Linked DNA regions of Homo sapiens: regions 1 and 2 are each linked to region 3. The links come from fine-mapping of genetic effects on gene expression. A gene starts in region 3. Each other region holds a variant in brackets. All regions are shown on one strand. Distances are between the middles of the regions.

The links.
Region 1: its variant is fine-mapped to the expression of RCE1 in prefrontal cortex (GTEx, PIP 0.92).
Region 2: its variant is fine-mapped to the expression of RCE1 in whole blood (TOPMed, PIP above 0.99).

The regions. Positions count from the first base shown.
Region 1 is chr11:66,879,664-66,887,839 of GRCh38, forward strand. All of the region lies in intron 3 of PC (pyruvate carboxylase), which reads right to left. Among named protein-coding and RNA genes, the nearest start is that of LRFN4, 27 kb to the left of the region's middle. RefSeq lists enhancers at 2,313-3,050, 3,051-3,788. The variant G/A (reference allele first, on the strand shown) is at 4,165.
Region 2 is chr11:66,798,030-66,806,205 of GRCh38, forward strand. TOP6BL (TOP6B like initiator of meiotic double strand breaks) reads left to right here. Exons shown (of 15, transcript NM_001302084.2): 5 at 2,612-2,667; 6 at 3,002-3,073; 7 at 5,966-6,161. Among named protein-coding and RNA genes, the nearest start is that of RCE1, 41 kb to the right of the region's middle. The variant G/T (reference allele first, on the strand shown) is at 4,009.
Region 3 is chr11:66,838,731-66,846,906 of GRCh38, forward strand. RCE1 (Ras converting CAAX endopeptidase 1) reads left to right here and starts at 4,711. Exons shown (of 8, transcript NM_005133.3): 1 at 4,711-4,910; 2 at 5,029-5,131; 3 at 5,226-5,309; 4 at 5,556-5,634; 5 at 6,139-6,306; 6 at 6,436-6,507; 7 at 6,770-6,832; 8 at 7,130-7,822. The coding sequence starts at 4,726. The coding sequence ends at 7,365. It overlaps TOP6BL (TOP6B like initiator of meiotic double strand breaks), which reads left to right. Exons shown (of 15, transcript NM_001302084.2): 14 at 4,119-4,339; 15 at 4,439-4,786. The coding sequence ends at 4,504. RefSeq lists silencers at 2,908-3,034, 4,252-4,391, 4,502-4,941 and an enhancer at 4,582-5,288.

The DNA of each region.
Region 1 (8,176 bases), 41 kb after region 3:
GGCCGCTGGCTGCAGGGAGGCGGGAGGTTGGGTCACGCAGAGAGTAGCTGATCCACAGCCCACAGCCTGCTCCCTCGGCCCCCTAGGGACCTGGCAAGATGATGAGGGAGGTGGTCTGAGACAGGAGGCAGTCAGAGACGGGAGGGCAGGTTTCTGTGATGGATTTGGGATGTGCTGCCGAGTGAGGCGGAAGACACGGAAATGTTGGCCAGCAGGCAGTGTGGGGCTGGGGAAGGCTGTCAGGAGCTGCTGTGAATGACGGAGGGTGAGGGCTGCACTGCTCCTTAGAACCTAGTTATGGCCCTGAAACTAAGCTCACCGCTGTGGTCACACAAGACCCCCACCACCAACCTGTCTCTCCCTGACCCGCACACAATGCCAGGCACGGATGGGGCCCAACAGACATAAAGATGAACTGAAACACCACTGCATTCCCAGGGCGCCTGCACCCTTCCTAGAACTTGGTTAACCCAGTTTTTCCTTATCGAATGGCACTGCCTTCCCAGATCTGAAACCCAGGCCTTTCCAGAATCAACATCGGCTGGGAGAAACCGCACTGTAAGATGGGCGTGGCCCCCTCACACCACCCTCTCTCCAGGAAGCAGGGTCTTCAAGGTTATGGTGGAATAAGCCGACTCTGGGTATGCTGAGCTTGAGGGGTCTGGGATGGTTCAAAGGGAGGAGCTGGGTGGGCAGACTCCCCCTGCTCCCCAATACTAGACCATTCCCCAAAGCCGAAGGGAGCAGGGGCCTCTGCACAGCACTTGGGGTATAGAAGAAGGAACCCCTGCAGCTGGAGGCACCTATGGTGACCCTCGGAAGTGGCAGCAGAGGGTGGGAGACGGCCTTCCTGAGACCCCCAGAAGCCTTGCCTCTGGTATTAATGACACTCCCGGTCCTCAGGCTGTACGAAACCAAGCCCAGACACTGGAGTATGCCAGCCTTTCAACTCACAATGGCACATTCCCAGCAAGTGCCACCAGTCTGCAGCCCTTCTGGCTGGCACCATTCCAGGCACTTCCTGCCATCTTCACAGCACGGCACAGAATAGGCGATGGCCAGGCACAGGAAGCAGGGGGCAGCAATGGCTGGGGCCAGGCTCCCTCTGCGGTCCCATGCTGCAGTCCCATGCTGCAGTCCCATGCTGCACCCTGCTTTTGGGTATTTGGTTGGTGGATGGCAATCAAGAAGTTCTCAAGGTTGTCAAGTTTGGCTGAGAAGCTTCCCTGGAAATGCAGAGGGCTTTACTAACAGAACCCACAGAGCCGTTTCCTGCTCCCTCGAGCTGAGCCGCAACTCTTCAAGGGAGGCTGCTAGAGCCCCAGGTGTGAAGGGCATTCTGGGATGCTGCCAGGGCCAGCAACCAGCTCAGGTTACAGTTACACGCCTCGGGGGATGCCACTGTCTTGCTTGCTCCTGGTGATACACACAAGCAAAGCTCTCCCTTTCTGACCTCAGAAATGGGGAAACAGTAGTGAGTGAGTGAGAGAAAAGCAACCACCATCACCCAAAGATCCTTCACCCTGTTTTCCTCTCCAGAGAGCTGACAGCCCAGAGACCCACTTGCTATTTTCTGCAAATGCCAGCTGACAGATCCCTTTTCTTGGCCTCGGGTTGTGCATAAGAGACCAAGAAATAAGACAGCTTTGACTGTCACTTGGGACGTGTAAATAACTCCTTGCAAGCAAGAATGAGCCACAGTGAAGCCAGTAGTGTGTGGGGCACCTGCTTCCTCCCCTGCTGCCTCTCGGGTGACTCCACAGCTTCCATTTCCCTCCCAGCTTCAGCTTCAGATCAATAACTCAGCATTCCCCTTCCAGAAGGGAGTCAGGAAGGCACCTACGACGACCTGCAGGCTGAGGCAGGGCGAGGGCCTGGCCGTCACCTGCCCCGCTCCTGACAGAGCTGCCGCTTCCATAGCACACAACACATACTCACTGAGCTCCACCTGGTGCCCGGCCAGTGCCAGTGGAGGAGGGCACAATGGTGGGCAGTGACCCCAGCAGAGCCTTGCTCCTTGCCAGGCAGGGGCCACTGTGGCTCTTCACGCAGACTCACTCAGTAACCCTCACAGCCCCTCATCACCTCCCTGTACAGGTAAGGGACCAGGTGCAGTGGGATTAAGTGACACACCCAGGCCACCAGCAGAGCCGGCCTGGAGCCCGCTTCATATGGCCCCCTCCAGAGCAGGAGCTCGGACCCATCAGAGTTGGCCTATGGACTCTTCACTCAACTAAAGGAGTAAGTCACGGCTTTCATCAGGAGCACAGTGTGACAGGCACTTGGAAACCAAAATACCAAAACCAAAAACCCCACTTCTGATAAAACTGTCACTGGCCTGGCCTCCAGCAGGGCCACCAGTGGCACTCAGAGCTTCCCAACGAGAGCTGACGAACAATGTCAGCAGTCACATGTCCCAGATAAGCCAAGGCAGTTTCAATTTGTCTAATAAATCATCAAAATGTCCCTGAAATCCCACTACTTCAGACCTGAACTACATCTCCCAGGATGCCTCTTGCAACCAGAAGGAGCACAGAATCCTGCTGTCAGGCCATCATCCCCCAAGTTTTGTTCCAGACAACAACGTGGCCCCAGTGCTCAGCAGCCTTTCTGGGGACCAGGGCAGGGCGCCACCTAAGAGCTGCTGCAGCTGAGGCCCCACATCGCTTCGTCCTACATATTCCTGTCCTCACAGAGCGTCTCCTGCAGCCTCAGAGGGCAGCAGTGGGCAAGAGGCCGCAGAGGAAGGGAAAGACCAGGCCCTGCTTCAGGGGCGGGTGGCCAGCAAGTTGGTTCTGAAAGCCCAGCAGAGCACCTGGGTCCCTCAGCAAATCCTCAGAGGTGTGCTGGAGAGCAGCAGAGGGCAGAGAAGAAAGAAGTGTGGTTCAGAAACAGGCCCCAGGAACCTCCGAACCAACAAAGCTCCACACACCTACTTCCTATGGGCCCAGCTGCCCCCAGCACCAGCACCCGCACCAGGCTGTGCCCCTAGCCCCAGCTGGGCTCCACAGCTGCCAGTGAAAGCAGGTCAGAACCAGAAAGAAAGAGCTCTTGGCAGAGCACTCGGGGCTGCGGCGGTGGCAGCTCTGACGGATGGGGCCGCTCTCCCCAGGCGGCTCTGCTCTAAACATGTCCGACGGGCCCCAGGGCTGGCAGCCAAGAGGGACAGATGAAAGAACGACTCCACCTGGCTCTCAGGGCTGCCACGGCTGATATCAAAGCACCCAAGAGAGGACAGACTGAGGCTGAGATTTCTGGGCAGGGGGGGCAGAAGGGAGGACGCTGGAAACAATGCAGGTGACAGACACAGAAGACAGGAGAGAGACAATACCAAAGACGGAAACAGACACAGCACGGGTGCTCGCCGAGGCTCAGCTGTCCGGGCTCTGGGCCCCCAGGAGCGCCGGCTGCTCCAAGTGGCACTGCGGCGACGAACAGCAGTGAACAGTGCCAGCAGGGCTCCTCATCGCCCTGGCAACCCTCTATTCAAAGGAGCAGCCGAGGGGGAAAGGGTGGCACCGAGGCGACTGGCGCCATGGTCTCGGGACTTGTGGACTGGGGGACAAAGGGGGTCTCAGAGAAAGCAGAGTGAGGGGTCCCGAGGGCCTGCAGTGAGGTGGCTGCTCCATCCCAGCCTCACTGGAAAGCAGTGAGAATTTCAGGGCCAACACTGCCCCCTGGCGCACGAGGAGCCAGCTTCCTGCCGACCCTGCAGCACGGGGTGTGGGCAGGGCTCACATGGGAAGGTCACTTGTCCCCATTCCTCCACATCCTATAGGAGTAGGCTCAGGAATGCCTTCCCTATATTCCCCGGGCAGCCACCTCCCTCAGCTCTGTCCTTGTCTGTGCCCCACCCATCGTCCTGCTCAGGGGGCTCTCCATGAGGTCTCCGTGGCGTCTGTGTCCTCAGCAAAGAGCATTTAATGTTATAAAGATTTGTTGACCCGTCTTGTCTCCTTTAATAGACACTGTTAGGGCCCTGGGCACAGGATCCCTGGTCTCTTTTGTCCCCACATCTCCCTGGCACTCTGTACAGTGCGTAAGACCAGAACTAAATAAATGTCTGAGGGAATGAATCAGTGAAGAAATACTTCAGGTCACAATGAGGTTGCAGAGTGGCATGAGGCTGTTAAGATTCACCGTGAGGCGTGGTGGCTCATGCTT[G/A]TAATCTCAGCACTTTAAGAGGCCGAGGCAGGGGTATCACTTGAGTCTAGGAGTTTGAGATCAGCTTGGGCAACATATTGAGATCCTGTCTCTGCCAAAAAATTAAAAAAAAAACTTTTTAAAATTAGCTGGGTGTGGCCTGGCACGTGGCTCACACTTGTAATCCCAGCACTTTGGGAGGCTGAAGCGGGTGGATCACCTAAGGTTGGGAGTTCAAGACCAGCCTGACCAACATGCAGAAACCCCATCTCTACTAAAAATACAAAATTAGCCGGGCATGGTGGCACACGCCTGTAATCCCAGCTACTTGGGAGGCTGAGGCAGGAAAATCGCTTGAACGTGGGAGGCAGAGGTTGCGGTGGGCTGAGATCGTGCTATTGCACTCCAGCCTGGGCAACAAGAGCAAAACTCCATCTCAAAAAAAAAAAAAAAAAATTAGCTGGGCATGGTGGTGCCCATAGATAGTCTCAGCTGCTTGGAAGCCTGAGGCAGAAGGATTGCTTGAACCTAGAAGGTTGAAGCTGCAGTGAGCCATGATGGTCCCAGTGCACTCCAGCCTGGGCAACAGAGCAAGACTCTGTCTCAAAAAATAATTAATCAATTAGTTAAAAAAAAAGATTTACCTAGAAATATTATGGAGCATTCAGATAAAGATTAGTAAGGCTTGGCCCCTCCTGGGAACAGCACACACACACTAGTGGGACACACAAATGTCCCATACATATTGATTAGAGCCCAAAGTGATGTTGACAGGACAGAGAGAGGGTCTGAAGGACAAGGTCAGCAAAAAGCACCTCCCAGACTAATGCAGAGCGTGCCTGTGCCCCCCACACCCATATGTTGAAACCTTGATCTTGGACTTCCAGCCTCCATAACTGTGAGAAATAAATGTCTGTTGTTTAAAAGCCACCCAGCCTGTGGTATTTTGTCACTAAAGCCCAAAAGGACTCAGACGCAGCCTGGCAATGGGAACCAGGGAAGCTGAGTTTCAGGGCTGCGAGGGGCGACAGAGGCTAGGGGCACCAAAGACTCAATTCTAAACAGAACTGGACAATCTTTGCAGGGAGGAAGATGCCAGGACCCAGCAGACACTTGCAGGTGGCCCAGGACATTTCCCGACCCTCTTCAGGCCACCCCACCCCTGCTGGAGAGCTTCACAGGACCTGCTCCCCACTCAATTCCCCTCGTTCCAAGATGACAGGACATGAATGCTGGCTGGATTAGAGAGGGCCTCCCAGAGGCCTTGGGGACTTCGGGACCTGTCAAGCTCAGGACAAGCGGGTGTCACCCGGTGTTAGAGGTTGAATTGTGTCCCCCACCAAAAAAGATACACTGAAGTCCTAACCCCTAGCACCTAGGTCAGAATGTGACCTTATTTGGGCCAGGCGCGATGGCTCACGCCTGTAATCCCAGCACTTTCGGAGGCTGAAGTGGGCTGATCACCTGAGGTCAGGAGTTCAAGACTAGCCTGGCCAACAAGGCGAAACCCATCTCTACCAAAAAATACAAAAAATTAGCCAGGTGTGGTGGTGGCTGCCTATAATCCCAGCTACTCGGGAAGCTGAGACAGGAGAATTTGCTTGAACCCGGGAGGCAGAGGTTGCAGTGAGCCGAGATGGCGCCATTGCACTCCAGCCTGGGCAACAGTGAGACTCTGTCTAAAAAAAAAAAAAAAAAAAAGTGACCTTATTTGGAAATAGGGTAATCAAGTAAAAATAAAGTCATTAGGGTGGCCCTAATCCAATATGCTTAGTGTCCTTATAAAAAGGGGGAAATCTGGACACAGACACACACAGAATGAAGATGTGAAGACACAGGAGATGACGGCCACATGACTGGAGTGAGGCAGCTACAAGTCAGGCAAGGCCAAGGACTGCTGGCAAACACCAGAAGCTGGCAGTGGCCAGGCAGGACCCTCCCAGAGCCATCCGAGAGAGCACGGCCCTGCTCACACCTTGAATTGGGGTTTCTGGCCTCCAGATGTGAGGCAAGAAGTCACCGTTGTTTTCACCCAGCTTTTGGCACCCTGTGATGGCAGCTGTAGGAATCTAATACACCCAGGTTGCCTACAAATAACCAGATCCTATACAGATCCTAACACCAGGGGCTGGAGAAGCACAATGATGGTAAAAATACCCCCCTCTCATCCGCACATCCTGATGCAGGCCACAGCGGTGGCTTTCAGAGCATGTCGCTATTTGGGACTGTGATCAGCTGGCTGGGGCAGGCTGAGTGAGAGGCAGCAGAGATGAGAAGTGAAGGATGATGAGGCGGGCCACGCCTGCGTGGAGAGCAGGGCAGAGTTAGCAAGATGGCCTGAAGGAAAGACTCCAGGGTGGGAGGAGGAAGGGACGTCCAGAGGGAGAAGAGGGGAGGGAGGGGGGCAGGCAGAGGAGGGGAGGAGGTCCAGGTGCTGGGGCGGCTGGAGCAAAGGCAGATAAGGCAGGAAGCAAACAGCCTGGCGTGGCCCGCTGAGGCAGGGAGTGCAGGCAGGGAGAGGAGCCTAAGGGCTGAGCCTGAGACTCAGTCCAGAGCTAGTGGGCCCCACCAGCAGCTTGGGCAGTGTCCTCTATGTCGGGATGCTATGGAAATACCAGGCAGCAGGGAGACAGATTTGCAACTGAGAGCTCAGGACCACTGTGGCAGCTCTGGGGAAGCTGGATTTGAGAAGGAAAGATGAGAAGTAGAAGGTCAGCTAGGAAGATGTTCTAATGTGGGCAAGAGACAATGAGGACCTGAACCACGGTGGTGGGAATAGGAATGAAGAGGGACTGTGCCAAGAAATACTTAGGAGGTGGCATCAACAGCACCCATTAGATGGGAGGCAGAGAGGCAGCAGGGAAGGGTGGCCCTGGGTTTTAAGGTGAACGATGGCAACACCAAATTAAAGAACGCGAAGCCAATGTGGGTAGAAACAGTGACTCAGCTTTGAACCTGAAGAGTATCCGGCTGGAAAGAACAGACAGCTAGACAGTGAGTCTCCTGTGTAAAGAGTTCTGAGCTGCAGAGACCTGGGAGTCATCCCAGCCCGCTCCAGAGACGAAGGCAGGAAGGCACGCTGCTAGGATGTGTCAGTGCCACGGTGCACGCCCCTGGCTTCAGAACCTAGGGTCCTGCCTTTGACCACTGTGCCACAGCGTCTTTCCCAAGATACAAGGCTCCAGCCCCGGCCATCAGGGCTGGCCCAGGAGGTGAGGCATCACATGGCTGTTGGGGAATGTGTGGAAGGTCCTCTCGGCTCCACAGAGTGCTTACTGGGCTCTTTTCCAGGCAGCGAACTGGAAGCTTCCGTTCCAGGAACCAGGAGTCCTGCAGCTACTGGTATGCAGTGGGCTCCCCAGGGAGCCCAGTCTCATCTCCCAGCGAGAGGACCAGGGGCCACCAAGCTCCACCCCAACCCAGACTTGCCAATGGGTGTTGGTGTCTCATTTTTCAGTGTGAACGGTCAGCGAACCACCACCAGATATTTGAGGAAATGACCAAAAAATTCACCAAAACAAATTGGGATTTTTAAAAAACAGGAACATTGAGGAGAAAAGTAATATAGAGAACAGATACTCAGAAAAACTATAATTTATCTCCTCAGAGAAACAAGAAAAGCTATTGCATCCATTAAGTAAGAGGCGGCAGCTATTTTAAAAAGGCAACAAGAAAGAGCTCTAGGAAATTAAAAATAGAGTTGCAAAATTTTTAAACATAATAAATAGAGAATTAGAAGATAGTTTGGGACATTACCCAGAAAGACTAACATATGGAAAATAGGAGAAAAGATAAGAAAATAAGAGACTCAGTCCAGCAAGTCCAGCATCCAGCTGCCTGGGACTCCCGGAAGGGGAGACGAGAGAGCCAGGGGCAGGGGAATCCTGCTGGAAAGTCTCCCGGGACTGAAGGACGCGTATCCATGTGGAAAGGTCTTGGAGCGCCTGGAGTGATGCCAAAAGTCCCACTCAGAAGAAAGATCAGTTTGGGATGCCAAAAGAGACCTCCCACTCTCTTTCAGTTTGGGAGGTCA
Region 2 (8,176 bases), 41 kb before region 3:
CATCCGCATTTTGTAGCTGAGAAAACTATGGTACAGAGAGTAAATAACTTGAAGAGTCAGGATTTGAACTCAGGCAGTCTGGTTCTAGAGTCACTTCTTACCTTATGTTACACAGAAAGAAAAATATAGGTGAATGGAGAGAATAATTAGAACAGTGAGGTACACTGGAGAGGATATAAAAGTCAGATGGAGAAGAGGAAGAAAAAGCAAAGAAAAAAGCATGGAATGTTCCACATATGAAAATAATAGAAATAAAAATGGATAGTTCCTTTAAAAAGGAGGTGAAGGGGCTGGGTGTGGTGGCTCACACCTGTAATCCCAGCACTTTGGGAGGCCGACTTGGGCGGATTGCTTGAGCTCAGGAGTTCCAGACCAGCCTGGGCAAGATGGTGAAACTCTGTCTCTACTAAAAATACAAAAATTAGTCGGGTGTGGTTCCATGCACCTGTGGTCCCATCTACTTGAGGGGCTGAGGCAGGAGAATCGCTTGAACCCAGGAGGTTGAGGCTGCAGTGAACCGTGTTTACACCATTGCACTCCAGCTTAGGTGACAAAGTGACTCTGTCTCAAAAAAAAAAAAAAAAAAAAAAAAGTTAAGGGATAGGGGTTGAGAGAATGGCAAAGAGGCAGGGATGATTTCTGATAATTTGTGACAACCTGGAGCTGTGATATAGGGCTCAATATATTTAAGATTTAGAATTTAAACACAGGCAAGCATTAAGTATGTTTAGGGAAAATACAAGTGATAAAGAATGTATTTTTTGGCCGGGCGTGGTGGCTCACGCTTGTATCCTAGCACTTTGGGAGGCCGAGGTGGGTGGATCACAAGGTCAGGAGATTGAGACCATCCTGGCCAACATAGTGAAACCTTGTCTCTACTAAAAATACAAATATTGGCTGGGCACAGTGGCTCACGCCTGTAATCCCGGCACTTTGGGAGGCCGAGGTGGGCAGATCACCTGAGGTCAGGAGTTCGAGACCAGCCTGGCCAACATGGCGAAACCCCGTCTCTACTAAAAATACAAAAATTAGCCGGGCATGGTGGCGCACGCCTGTAATCCCAGCTACTCAGGAGGCTGAGGCAGGAGAATCACCTGAACCTGGGAAGTGGAGGTTGCAGTGAGCCGAGATTGTGTCATTGCACTCCAGCATGGGTGACAGAGCAAGACTCTGTCTCCAAAAAAAAAAAAAAAAAAAAATACAAATATTAGCTGGGCATGGTGGCGCGTGCCTGTAGTCCCAGCTACTCAGGAGGCTGAGGCAGGAGAACTGATTGAACCTGGGAGGTGGAGGTTGCGGTGAGCTGAGATTTTGCCACTGCACTCCAGGCTGGGAGACAGAGTGAGACTCCATTTCAAAAAAAAAAAAAAGAATGTCTTTTTCCTGGCTGAGCACGGTGGCTCATGCCTGTAATCCCAGCAGAAGTAAAACTTTGGGAAGCCGAGGTGGGTGGATCACTCACTTGGGTGGTCAGGAGTTCAAGACCAGCCTGGCCAACATGGCGAAACCCCATCTCTACTAAAAATACAAATATTAGCTGGGCACAGTGGCGCGTGCCTGTAGTCCCAGCTACTCGGGAGGCTGAGGCAGGAGAATTGCTTGAACCCAGGAGGCGGAGGTTGCAGTGAGCCGAGATTGCGCCATTGCACTCTGCACTCCAGCCTGGGCGACAGACTGAAACTCCGTCTCAAAAAAAAAAAAAGTCTTGTTTCTCTAGGTTCATCCGTGTCACAAATGACAGGATTTCCTTCTTTTTAAAGGCTGACTAGGCTGGGTATGATGGCTCATTCCTATAATCCTAGCACTTTGGGAGGCTGAGGCAGGAGGATCACTTGACCTTGGGAGTTCAAGACCAGCCTGGGCAATATGGTGAAACCCTGTCTCTACAAAAAAATGCAAAAAGTAGCTGGGTGTAGTGGCACATGCCTGTGGTCCCAACTACTCAGGAGGCTGGGGTGGGAGGATCACTTGAGCCTGGGAGACCAAGATCACACCACTGCACTCCAGGCTGGGCAACAGAGCAAGACCCTGTCTCAAAAAAAAAAAAAAACCACAAAAAACTAACTGTATTCCATTGTGTATATACCACATTTTCTTAATCAACAGAAAGACAAATACTGTATGATTTCACTTATATGTGGAATCTGAAAAAGTCAAACTCATAGTAGAGAATAGAATGGTGGTTACCAGAGGCTGGGAGTGGGTTAAGGAAGGAAATAGGGAGTTGTTAGTTAAAGTGTACAAAGTTTCAGTTAGACAGGAGGAATAAGTCTTTAGAATCTTATTTCACAGGGGGGTGACTATAGTCAATAATAATGTATTATATATTTCAAAATAGCTGAGAGTAAATTTCAAATGTCTTACCACAAAAAATGCTAGTAAGTTATGTGATAGATGTTAATCTACTTGATTTAATCATTCCACATTATATACATATATCAAAACACCACATTGTACCCTATGAATGTATACAGTTATAGTTTATCAATTAAAAGTAATGTTAATTTAAAATTTTTTAAGCTTATTCTTTTCCTTTAGGGATTAGATATGGAAGTTTTTAATCTGTATCTTGGCTCATGTTAAATCTCACACTTAACTTATTGTTTTGCAGGTCAGATTTCATTTCAGTGTAAAGGTAAATGGAATCCTCTCCACAGAGATCTTTGGGTAAGTTCTTAGGTCTATGGCTTAAGATGATGCTATGGCTCTGCAATTTTTCTCAGCTATTATTGTCCTATTTCCAAAAGGTTCACAGTTTGATATCTTGACCCAAAGTCACCTTGAAACTAATTTTCTGACACCCCCACATTTTATTATTTTAGTAGATTCATCCCTGTCTCTAGAGGGGGTAAACTTAAAGATTGCCATTTTCCCCTTGGTTAATTAGTTACTGAATTCTAGTAATCGCTGGGGTGGTAGTAGTCATGGGCCAAAATTTATGTCAAACAGAGATTGATTTTAGAATCTTTGAGAGATGGCTTAGCTTTGCTTTGCTTTGCAGGGTGGAGAATGAACCCACTTTGAACCTTGGGAATGGAATTGCTCTTTTGGTCGACTCCCAGCATTATGTGAGGTGAAGGCGTAAAGCCTTGTTGTCCCTCTGCATGTTTTACTCTCCTCTCGAGTACGAATGTGGGTAGAAATTGGAAATTGTCTCACTTGTCATTTGTAAGTGCCAGGTGTCAGCTTCTCTATAAGAAAAGCAGAAGTAAAACTTTTTTTTATGTTGAAAACTGCTATTTTAAGTTATTTATGTATTTGAATCTATTCTAAATGACCTGAAGACATGTGCCTTCTTCTCTTCAGGCCTTATTTTACACAGACCCTGCTAGTTCCAATCCCATTTAGGCATGAGAAGAGAAGACTATGAATTTAAAACTTTACTTGAATTCTTGGCTAGAGAGATAGTATGAATACAAAGGAATTCAGTGTACATTATTTTCTGTGCATCAGCATTTTGCATAGGTTTGGAAATCATCTCTCTGCCCATCTCCATCTTCTTCAGACTCCAAGAAAGTAAATCTGGCCAGGCGCAGTGGCTCATGCCTATAATCCCAGCACTTTGGGAGGCTGAAGTTGATGGATCACTTGAGGTTAAGAGTTTGAGACCAGCCTGGCCAACATGGCAAAACCCTGTCTCTGCTAAAAATACAAAAATTAGCTGGGCATGGTAGCACATGCCTGTAATCCCAGCTACTTGGGAGGCCAAAGCATGAGAATCACTTGAACCCAGGAGGTGGAGGTTGCAGTGAGCCGAGATCACGCCACTGCACTCCAGCGACAGAGCAAGACTCTGTCTCAAAAAAAATAAATAAATAAAAAATGTAAAAAATCCATGGAGGAGGTGGTAAACAATATGGAACACACAGAGCCCTTCTGTCTTGCCTTCCTGTGCCATTTAACTACCACAGAATCCAAAGTGAAAATGAATTATGTCAAGAAAAGACCTAACATATGCTTAAGTCCAATTAATTTATTTTTTCTTTTTTTGAGACAGGGTCTCAGTCT[G/T]TTCAACCCAGATGCCATCATAGCTCACTGCAGCCTTGGTCTCCTGGGCTCAAGTCATTTTCCCACCTCAGCCTCTCGAGTAGCTAGTAGCTAGGACCACAGAAATATGCTACCATACGCTGCTAATTTTTTTTTTTTTTGAGACGGAGTCTCGCTCTTTCGCCCAGGCTGGAGTGCAGATCTCACCTCACTGCAACCTCCACCTCCCTGGTTCAAGCGATTCTCCTGCCTCAATCTCCTGAGTAGCTGGGACTATAGGTGCATGCCACCACGCCCAGCTAATTTTTTTGTATTTTTAGTAGAAATGGGGTTTCACCATGTTGGCCAGGATGGTCTCAATCTCCTGACCTCGTGATCCTCCTGCCTCGGTCTCCCAAAGTGCTGAGATTACAGGCATGAGCCACTGCGCCCAGCCCATATACTGCTAATTTAAAAAAAATTTTTTTTTGTAGAGATGAGGTTGTTGCCTAGGCTGGTGTCAAACTCCTGGACTCAAGCAATCCTCCTGCCTCGGCCTTTCAAAGAGCTGGGATTACAGATGTGAGCCAATGTGTCCAGCCCTAATTTAGTCTTTATTCATTAGTTTCTGCCTCTATTTATGTGCCCAGAGGCAACACTAGTAGTCAAAGTCTCTTAAGGCTTAAAGAGACTGCCTGTGGTTCTTAGTCTGTTTTCTTATTCTCACCCAAAATTACACCTCAGATGAGAATATTTTTGTCATTTAATATGCAGGTAATAATTTCCCCACCCCATATCTTTCTTTAGTGATCCTCTAATAATAAACAATCCTTACAGGTAGCAGCTCATCATCATAGTTGTACTGACACAAGTTTAAGCCTTTGAGCCAATTTTTGTAGATGTGTTTCCTTGGATGACCTGATTAGAGACAAAGGGAAAGGTTCATTAATATTTCCTCTCTATTAATTAATTCATTCATTCTTAATCAGCTTTCTCAGGTTGACTGTTTTCTCTCTGTTTAGAAAAGAGCTATTGGAAAGTAACAAAATTTTACTAGATTCTTTCTAGGAGAGAAAGATGGCCTGGTTTTTTCTCATTGTTACTATCAAACAGCAACCTCAGACCTCTTCAGCGGAAGGTGTAGCATGCGTGAGAGCAGACTTATAAGTATCATGGGGCCAGTTTTAGGCCATTTGTGATTCATGGGCCCCCTCACACAATGCTGACCTTTGAATGAATTTGGAAATTTGCTCAGAACCAAAGATTAATTTTAGTGGAGGAAGTATACTTGAGAATAAGAAACAGGCTGGTCATGATATCTCACACCTGTAGTCCCAGCACTTTGGGAGGCCAAGGCAGAAAGATTGCTTGAGGCCAGGAGTTTGAGACCAGCCTAATAAACATAGTGAGACCCCATCTCTAATAAAATAAAATAATAGTAATTATTTTTCGAGACAAAGTCTCGCTCTGTTGCTCAGGCTGGAGTGCAGTGGCGCAATATCAGCTCACTGCAACCTCCGCTTCCCAGGTTCAAGCGATTCTCCTGCCTCAGCCTCCTGAATAGCTGGGATTACAGGTGTGCACCATCATGCACAGCTATTGTATCTTTAGTAGAGATGGAGTTTCACCATGTTGGCCAGGTTGGTCTTGAACTCCTGACCTCAAGTGATCCACCCACCTCAGCCTCCCAAAGTGCTGGGATTACAGGCATGAGCCACAATGCCTGGTCTAAAATGTTTTTTTAAAAAGAGAAACTAAGAAGCATCCGTTAGTGGCAGCAAAAGCAGGAGCAATGATATCTCTGAAATGCCAGTTTTTCTACTACTTCCATTGCTGTGATTCCCTGAGTGAGACATAAGTTATTTATTCCAACAAAACTGATATGGCAGGTTGTGTGGTTGTACATATGCTAGAGGTTACAAAAATAATTTTGAATGCTCTTTTAAATAATTTCTTAAGAGGAAAAAATGTTAAATTTGACTTGTCTGTTTTCTGACAGTAGACCAAATTTTGGTACAATTGAATCACACTGCAGCAGAATTCACCCTGTGCTAGGACATCCAGTAATGCTTTTCATCCCTGAAGACGTGGCTGGCATGGACTTGTTGGGAGAACTGATACTGACTCCAGCAGCTGCACTGTGCCCCAGCCCAAAGGTTTCTTCCAACCAGCTTAACAGGATTTCTTCAGTTTCCATATCCTTTTGATGAAAAGTTCCATCCAATTATCTTTGAAATGGGTTTTTATATCCCAGTTTTAGGAAAGCCTTTAGTATGTGAATTCTGCATCTACAAATATATATGATTTGTATAAAAACATATAATCTAATGTGAAAGCCAAGCTTGAAAATTTTGCCAGGGAACTGAAAACTGTAAAATGTGACACATGCCATGCGTTTTTCATACAATCCAATATGACTGAAGCATGAAATGAATGGTGCACGAGGAAGAGATGGGACTAGAAAAGTAGTCTGGAGTTGAATATGGTAGATCTTGAGTGCCATACTAAGGATTGTGAATTTTATTCTCTGTATAGTAAGAAACCATTGAATGTTTTGGGAGAAGTCTTTAGCAGCATTATAGAGTACGGATGGGAGACAGAAGTTAGTAATACTAAGTAAATAAGTAAGTGAACTGGATTAAAAATAATGAGTGCTTGACGGCTGGGTGCAGTGGCTTACACCTGTAATCCCAGCACTTTGGCAGGCCGAGGTGGGCGGATCACTTGAGGTCAGGGGTTTGAGACCAGCCTGGCCAATATGGTGAAACCCTGTCTACTAAAAATACAAAAATTAGGCCGGGCGTGGTGGCTCACACCTGTAATCCCAGCACTTTGGGAGGCTGAGGCGGATGGATCACAAGGTCAGGACTTGGAGACCAGCCTGGCCAACATGGTGAAACCCCATCTTAGTAAATACAAAAATTAGCTGGGCATGGTGGCAGGCGCCTGTAATCCCAGCTACTCAGGAGGCTGAGGCAGGATAATCACTTGAACCTGGGAGGCAAAGGTTGCAGTGAGCCGAGATCGCAGCCACTGCACTCCAGCGTGGGCAACAGAGTGAGATTCCGTCTCAAAAAAATAAATTAATTAAAGCCAGGCGTGGTGGTGTACGCCTATAGTCCCATCTACTTGGGAGGCTGAGGCAGGAGAATCACTTGAACCTGGGAGGTGGAGGCTGCAGTGAGCCAAGAACACGACACTGCACTCTAGCCTCGGTGACAGAGCAAGACTCTGCCTCAGAAAAAATAAAAATAAAATAACAATAATAATGAGTGCTTGAATCTAAAGTGTGGTAGGCACGGAAAGGCCAGACTTATCACCTGAATTAATCAACAAAATGTGGTAACCAGTTCATTATTAAGGTAGGGAGAGATTAGGGGCAGGGAATGTCTAAGGTTGATGTCAGATTTCTATTCTATGTCTGTCTAGAATAGGCAAATACAGAGAGAAAGTTGATGGAGGGGCTTTTTTGTTTTTTTTTTTGGAGACAAGGTCTGGCTCTGTTGCACAGGCCAGAGTGCGGTGACACAATCTCAGCTCACTGCAACCTCTGCTTCCCGGACTCAAACCATCCTCCCACCTCAGCCTCCTAGAGACCACAGGTGCATGCCACCATGCCCAGTTAATTTTTGCATTTTTGGTAGAGACAGAGTTTCACCATGTTGCCCAGGCTGGTCTCAAACTCCTGGACTCAAGCGATCCACCAGGCTCGGCCTCCCAAAGTTTTGGGATTACAGGCATAAGCCACTGTGCTCGGCCTGGAGGGGCTTCTTTTCAGAGTAATGAAAGTGTTCTAAAATTGATGGTGGTAGTGACTGCACAACTCTTTGAATATTCTAAAATCCATTTTATTACACATTTAAAATGAGTGAATTGTATGGTATGTGAATTGTATCTCAATAAAGCTATTTAAAAATATTTCCATGAATAACTGACAGAATAATGATACTTTCAGCAAGATAAAAAAACATTAATAGCAGATTTAGGAGATAAAGAAGATGAGTTTGACATTAAACATGTTGAGTTTATGGTGTCTCAAGACATCCTTTGAACATAGTAAGGAGCTATATAGGAATTTGGTCTGGAACTTGGAAATGGTCAGATTTAGAGATACAGAATTTTAGAGTCTCAGTTTCCTCCATAGGTAAGAGTCGTGTAGTGCTGTGTTTAGAGCATGGCACAGGAGTGTAAATGTTGGATTCACTACTAA
Region 3 (8,176 bases):
TTTTATTTTTATTTTTTTGAGACAGAGTCTCACCTCTGTCGCCCAGGCTGGAGTGCAGTGGCGCCATCTCGGCTCACTGCAAGCTCCGCCTCCCGGGTTCACACCATTCTCCTGCCTCAGCCTCCCGAGTAGCTGGGACCACAGGCGCCCGCCATCACGCCCGGCTAAATTTTTGTATTTTTAGTAGAGACGGGGTTTCACCGTGTTAGCCAGGATGGTCTCGATCTCCTGACCTTGTGATCCGCCTGCCTTGGCCTCCCAAAGTGCTGGGATTACAGGCGTGAGCCACCGCGCCCGGCCTGGCACCATGTCACTCTTAATGTGTGTTATGGGAAAGTGTCAGTGCGTGGGTTGTGATTGCAATTATACTGAAGTCTTTTCTCCATACATGTCTCCTGCAGTGCTTAAACAGCCTTCCCAGCCCACAGCAGCAGGGGTACAGCAGCTCTCACATTCAGTCACTAGCAGAGATGCCAGGTACTATTCTGAGCTTTTAAAATGTACTAATGCTCTTAGTTCTCAAAACTATCCTAGGAGCTATAGGTACTGTTATTAACTCTCATTTTGCATATGAGGAAATTGAGGCCCACAGATATCAATAAACTTACCCAAGGCTACACAGCCAGTAAATGACAGAGCAAGAATTCAAACCCAGGCAGCCTAGCTCTGCTGTCTCTGGAAGAGCCGAATTAGCAGGGATGCCCTCCTACAGATCCTGAGTCCTTCAGATAAAACAGTATCTGGGTCAAGGGAAGCTGGGGATCGTGACGTCAGCACCTATGCTTGGTTGGTAAATCCCTCTTTCTAGGGTCACAACCACAACACATACGCGTTTATGCTTAGGCCTAAGATGTGTCCCTGAAATCACTGTCAACTGAACCATGTTTTAAATGTTGTGGGGGCTGTTGCTACTGAAAAGAACCCTGCTGTGAACGCTTGTACAAAGCAAAGAATCTATTTTTATAAATTTAGATCTGGAGATTTTAAAAAATGCAAATATGATACATACAATTCAGTATTTATGCAGTCAGAAGAGACAAAGGAATAAGTATCTTCCCATACAAGGAAAAAAATTAACATTTAATTCAGTACCTTCTGTGGACCCTGGGGAGATGCTGGGGTCTTCCACAGCCTTATCTCATTTAGTCTTTACAGTGCCCTTCTGGGGGCAGGGGGAGGCATGGATCCTAACAAACTAGAGGACCCAGGCTCAGGTGAGGCAGAACGCTTAGCAGGAGGTAATGACTTTCAGTTTGCCGCCTCCAAAGCCCATGTTTTCTCCAGTGTGCAACATGAGCTTTAAAATCTAGGTGTTTATAATCTGGTGGAACCCCTGGAGGATGGCTTGGGCTGTTCTGTCCTACAGACCTGTGGCTCTCAGCATCCATTCTACGCCTCACATGGGCAGCCCTGCTGAAGAAAATCACCAAACTGTGTGTTGATGCCACCATCCATTGGTGGTCCACTCACTCAGGAGCCTTTGGTTTGTCAGTCCTTCCCCCTGCCTTTCTGGCCTTTGTCCCTCAGTGGCTACTCCATTCTTTAAAAAATCTACCCAGTCTCTGCCTCCTGCTTCATACTTACGGATCTCTTTTCTCAGTAAACTCACCCAACTTGCACCCTCCCACTGCAGAACCTCATCAGTGTGGGGACCCATTTCCTCCAGGCTCACAGTGGGATCGTCCCTTCTGCTTTCTTGGGACCTGCTTGCATCAGTTATCACTGCTGCACCTTCAGCCTTCCCCTGAGTTCCTTTCCCTCAGCAGGTCAAGCTCTCATTTCATCAGAAGAAAATCTCCCGTGACCTTGAACTTCCTCCACTTATCCTCAACCTCTCTCCCTCACATCTCAGCCAAGGATCTCAAAACCACAAGCTGCATGCACCCTGTCTCCCTTTCTTCCTCTCATTCTCTCCCTCACTTAGGGTACTTGCTTTTTCTGTGGCCTCTGAAACTTCTCTCCTCAGGGAAGGCCTCTTAATTACCAAATTTTGCATTTACCTTCATTGTATCTGAACTATGTGCAAAATTTGGCACTGTAAGGCTATGACTCGCCTGGTTTTTCCCTCCCTGGGCTTTTCTCTTCATCTACTTTCCTCTGGTCATGCCTAAATAGTGCTCATCCTGCTCTCCCACCCAGCTATCTTCCATCCCAACTGTTGACCACTGCCTCTGGGCTCAAGACTCTCAAATTGGTATGACCAGCCAAGGCCTCTGCTGAGTGCCAGCTGGGAGATTCATTTGCTCACTAGGCAGCTCCTCGTGGAGGTCCCATTGGTACCTCAGTTTCCTCTCTCCTGACTAAAGAGACTTTTAGTCTGTTTCATGATTAATCCAATTTATCACATCTGAAATCTTGGATTCATTCAAGAGGCCTCTCATTTTTTTTTTTTTTTTTTTTTTTTGAGACAGAGTCTCCCTCTGTTGCCCAGACTGGAGTGCAGTGGCGTGATCTCGGCTCACTGCAACCTCCCTGCCTCCCAAGTTCAAGTGATTCTCTTGCCTCAGCCTCTGAGTAGTTGGGATTACAGGCGCCCACCACCATGCCCAGCTAATTTTTGTATTTTTAGTAGAGACGGGGTTTCACCATGTTGGCCAAGCTGGTCTCAATCTCCTGACCTCGTGATCTGCCCGCCTCGGCCCCCCAAAGTGCTGGGATTACAGGCATGAGCCACCGCGCCCGGCCAAGAGGCCTCTCCCACATCCAGGCGCTCACAAAGGCCTATCACTTAGGCCTGATGAACACTTCTGATTCCTGGTGACGCCTCTATCTCCACTGTCTTTACTTGTTATTGGGCTCTTAAGGTCTTCCTGTCTCTAGTTTGATCTAAGCCACACCTTTGAAAGAACGATCTTTCTGAAGTACAAAATTACCAATATATTTCACCAGTGCTTAAAACTCTTTATTGGCTTCCTGTCTTCTACAGATGAAAATCTGTTTCTAGCCAGGCAAGGTGGTGTGTGCCTTTAGTCCCAGTTACTCGAGAGGATGAGGCCGGGAGTTCAAAGCTGCAGTGAGCTACAATCACGCCACTGCACTCCAGCCTAGGTGACAGGCGAGACCTCATCTTTAAAAAGTAAAAATTTACATAGGAAGTTGTTTTATGCCTTTGCATAAGGTTTGTGTTAACTTTCAGCAAGAAATTCCCTTTCTCTCCCTTGTCTGGCATATCACTCTTCATCCTTCAAAACCCAGCTCTGGGGCAGGAGTGGTGACTTATGCCTGTAATACCGTCACTTTGGGGAGCTGGGGCGGGAGGACAGCTTGAGACTAGCCTGGGCAACACGGTGAGACCCCTGTCTCTACAAGTAAAAAAAATTAGCCGGTGTGGTGGCATGCGCCTGTGGTTCCTGGTACTCTGGAAGCTGAAGCTGAGGCAGTAGGATCGCTTGAGCCCAGGAGGTCGAGGCTGCAGTGAGCCAGGACTGAGCCACTGCACTCCAGCCTGGGCAACAGAGCAAGACCTTGTCTCAAAAAAACAAAAGGTCAGCTCAGGTATCTCCTCATGGAAACCCTTCTTCACATCCAGAGGTGGTCGGCTTCCTTCTCTATTCTAACCCTGGGCTTTGTACACAGGTCTGCATCCCCTCCTAGCATCTGTGAGCTTCTCTCAGGGAAAAGCTCATTGATCTGCATCCCCAAGACCTGCTGGGGAAGAATCTATCCATCTAAACTCGCTTTAATTTGACAAATGAATCAGTTAAGAGTAGGAAAGCTGCCTATGGGCACTGCTCAATGCAACGTGAGCAACAAAGGGAGACAGAACTGAGGCCAGAAAGGTGAGGGGGGACAGAGGCTGGCAGGGAGGGGAGCTTGTCAGTGCAGACTCCAGGAAGAATCTATACAGAAAGTTACTGAGCGGCCTGAGTCCCCCAAGTGAGGGCTCGGGACAATCTCCCGCCTGGGTGAGAGAATAGGGAGACCCTGAAACGTCTCTGCAGCCTCGGGCTGCTCCAGAAGCGCCCACAGCTGCAGGGTTTTGGTGTGGATGGGACCTGCTGACAGGGATGCGGTGGGAAGAGCCCCTCGGCGCCCGTTCTCCCAGGCTTCCCCTTGGCCAAGGGTGCTCCTAGCACAGGGCCATGAAAGTAAGATGAAGAGGCTTGTTTTTCTCCTAGATACCAGCGGGCAAGCAGAAAACAAGAGGCTCAAGAGGGGCAGCCCCCGCATAGAGGAGATGCGAGCTCTGCGCTCTGCCAGGGCCCCGAGCCCGTCAGAGGCCGCCCCGCGCCGCCCGGAAGCCACCGCGGCCCCCCTCACTCCTAGAGGAAGGGAGCACCGCGAGGCTCACGGCAGGGCCCTGGCGCCGGGCAGGGCGAGCCTCGGAAGCCGCCTGGAGGTAACTGGGCGAGGGCCGCGCAGGGAAGGGCTCAGCAGGAGGTGCAGGCCACGGGCCGCTGCTGAGAGGTCCTCACCCCGGGCCCCCTTGTTCCCGCAGGACGTGCTGTGGCTGCAGGAGGTCTCCAACCTGTCAGAGTGGCTGAGTCCCAGCCCTGGGCCCTGAGCCGGGTCCCCTTCCGCAAGCGCCCACCGATCCGGAGGCTGCGGGCAGCCGTTATCCCGTGGTTTAATAAAGCTGCCGCGCGCTCACCAAGTCCTCTTCCGCGTCTGCTTCCGCGTCGGGCCCGGGCGGGGCGGGGCGGGGCGTGGAGCCGCGCCGCGGCCTGACGTCACCCACACCTCCCTGGGACTGCGTCACTGGTGCGCGCCGCGGGTCAGGGCGCAATGGCGGCGCTGGGCGGGGATGGGCTGCGACTGCTGTCGGTGTCGCGGCCGGAGCGGCCGCCCGAGTCGGCGGCGCTGGGCGGCCTGGGCCCCGGGCTGTGCTGCTGGGTGTCAGTGTTCTCCTGCCTCAGCCTCGCCTGCTCCTACGTGGGCAGCCTCTACGTCTGGAAGAGCGAACTGCCCAGGTGCGGGGGCTGCGCGCGACCGGAATCCGCGCCCTGCGGGCGGAGCTTGGGCGAGCCGGGGGCGGGTCCGTGCTCATGGGCAGCCGCGGGCCCCCTGAACTTACTGTCCCCTCCGTAGGGACCATCCCGCGGTCATCAAGCGACGCTTCACCAGCGTCCTGGTGGTGTCCAGTCTCTCACCCCTGTGCGTGCTGCTCTGGAGGGAACTCACAGGCATCCAGGTGCGAAGGAGGCGGGGCAAAGGGCAACGGCGGTGAGAGCTCAGGGGTCTTTAGGGGAGGAAGCAAAACTGATGCCCCCTTTCCTGTGGCTCAGCCAGGCACATCCCTGCTCACCCTGATGGGCTTCAGGCTGGAGGGCATTTTCCCAGCGGCGCTGCTGCCCCTGTTGCTGACCATGGTGAGTGCTCCTGCTGTATTTTTTCTTCTGGTCTTTGTTATCAGCCTGATGGGCAGTGCCGTGGACTCTTGTTTTTGGTTTTTGGTTGATGGGAGACAGGACTTTTGAGATGGCCCCAGGGTCCTCCGGTATGCATGGTCTGGAAATCGTGGCTGGAGAGGATTTCAAGCTTGGAGTCTCAGGGAGCATGGGCAAAGGTCTGGGCAAAAGCGGTGGGTTATGGTGAAAGTGTTTTCTTGCCCTCAGATTCTTTTCCTGGGCCCACTGATGCAGCTCTCTATGGATTGCCCTTGTGACCTGGCAGATGGGCTGAAGGTTGTCCTGGGTGAGTCTTAAAGGCTGAAGGGAAAAGTAGGCACAGGCAGTCCAGGACATTGGGGCAGGGAGTCAGCGGGCTCAGGGTGTGATCTGGACACGTGAAATGTCATCTCTCTGGGTGTGTTTTCTCATCAGTAAAATGGAAACATAGAGCTAGGTGGCCTCTAAGGGTTGATTGCCAACGTCCAAGGAGTTCCCTGGGAACCCCCAGCAGTATTTGGTGTGGATCAGAGAGCACTGTCCCCTGCTTCCCCAACCAGAGCTAGTCTTGCTTAAATTTTGGTGTCTCCAGAGTTTACTTCCAGGATGCCCTTGCCTCAGCTAATGCCTTCCATTCAGGTCATCTCAAGACATTGGGTTTATGTTGGGTCCACACCCCCGTCCTCAGCAGTATTGATGCCTAACCTGAGTTTGGCCAGGGTAAAGTTGTGGGAGAGGAGCCCTTGGAGCCTCTGGGGTCTCACTGTCTGACAGCCCGTCACTCACAGCTTGTCCTGAATTCCCTCTGCAGCCCCCCGCTCCTGGGCCCGCTGCCTCACAGACATGCGTTGGCTGCGGAACCAAGTGATCGCCCCGCTGACAGAGGAGCTGGTGTTCCGGGCCTGTATGCTGCCCATGTTAGCACCGTGCATGGGCCTGGGCCCTGCTGTGTTCACCTGCCCGCTCTTTTTTGGAGTTGGTGAGTCTGGCCAGATTAGTCCTGGTGTGTTTTCAGCATGAGAGCTCAGAAGGGGGCTTGAGGTGAGGGGCAGTCCTAGAAGGGAGGCTGGGAGGAATGACTGTGATGTGATTGTCACCTTTTTCCCAGCCCATTTTCACCATATTATTGAGCAGCTGCGTTTCCGCCAGAGCAGCGTGGGGAACATCTTCTTGTCTGCTGGTGAGTCCTGGCTAGCTGGCCTGGGTTAGGGTGTATGATGATGTCGCTAATGGCCACTCTGGAGAAGGAATTGGGAACTGAGGGCCACAGTATTGGAGAGGCCACTGACCGTGGGAAGTTGGGGTGCAGGACAGCTGTAGGTGGTGGGGCAGGCAGCTACTGCCCCGGGGGGAGGGGATGGTCGGTCTTTGGCTGATGGGTATGTAGTGTGGGGGCAGGAAGGGCGTGCAGGTGTGGTCACTCGTGGCCTCCCCGTCTCCAGCGTTCCAGTTCTCCTACACAGCTGTCTTCGGTGCCTACACTGCTTTCCTCTTCATCCGCACAGGTTGGTCCTCAGTCCCTCATGGGTCCCTGGGGGCCCACAGGAGCGGGTGGGAGAATGGGAATACTGTTTGTTCTAGGAACAAAAGTTCTTCTACTCCAGTCCTTGAGACAGGCTGAGCCAGAGCCCTCAGCCTGGTGAGGTCTGAGAGGTGGAAAGGAGCAGAGGCCGTGGTGTGTGGGTGGATGGCTGGGGTAGTGGGATCTTGATCTCCTGTTTCAGGGGATGAGGGTCACTAGCCCTGGAAGGGCCAGAGGAGGTGGTAGGGCTGCTCCCTGAGCTGCTGTCTCTTTTCCCCAGGACACCTGATTGGGCCGGTTCTCTGCCATTCCTTCTGCAATTACATGGGTTTCCCAGCTGTTTGCGCGGCCTTGGAGCACCCACAGAGGCGGCCCCTGCTGGCAGGCTATGCCCTGGGTGTGGGACTCTTCCTGCTTCTGCTCCAGCCCCTCACGGACCCCAAGCTCTACGGCAGCCTTCCCCTTTGTGTGCTTTTGGAGCGGGCAGGGGACTCAGAGGCTCCCCTGTGCTCCTGACCTATGCTCCTGGATACGCTATGAACTCTCACCGGCTCCCCAGCCCTCCCCACCAAGGGGTACTGCAGGGGAAGGGCTGGCTGGGGTCCCCGAGATCTCAGGAATTTTTGTAGGGGATTGAAGCCAGAGCTAGTTGCGTCCCAGGGACCAAGAGAAAGAAGCAGATATCCAAAGGGTGCAGCCCCTTTTGAAAGGGGTGTTTACGAGCAGCTGTGAGTGAGGGGACAAGGGGCAGGTCCCAGGAGCCACACACTCCCTTCCTCACTTTGGACTGCTGCTTCTCTTAGCTCCTCTGCCTCTGAAAAGCTGCTCGGGGTTTTTTATTTATAAAACCTCTCCCCACCCCCCACCCCCCAACTTCCTGGGTTTTCTCATTGTCTTTTTGCATCAGTACTTTGTATTGGGATATTAAAGAGATTTAACTTGGGTAACATGGCCTTGGGCCTTTGGGAATCGGTCTATTTGGGATCTTGTGTGAAGACTCTAGGCAGCTCTTGGGAGTGTGCCCACCACCTGTCCCAGCTACCTTGAACACTGACATCTGGGCGGTGCATCCAGGCGGGTAGTTCCCTGGAGTACAGGATGGGCTGGGAGCTCTGGTTGCTGGGAGCCTGTGGCTTCCTCCTTCCTGAACCATGCCCCAAAGTCCTAGTGTGGTTGGCTCTGAGACTGCAGGTACCAGGTGTGAGCCCAGCTCATCCTGGGGCCTGTGCCTTGGCTGACGGGTCAGGGAGTGGGAACCATGGCCCTGGCCCTGACCTCAGCGATGGAGCCTCCGACGTATCTCCTCTGAGGGGAAGATGACTGGCCT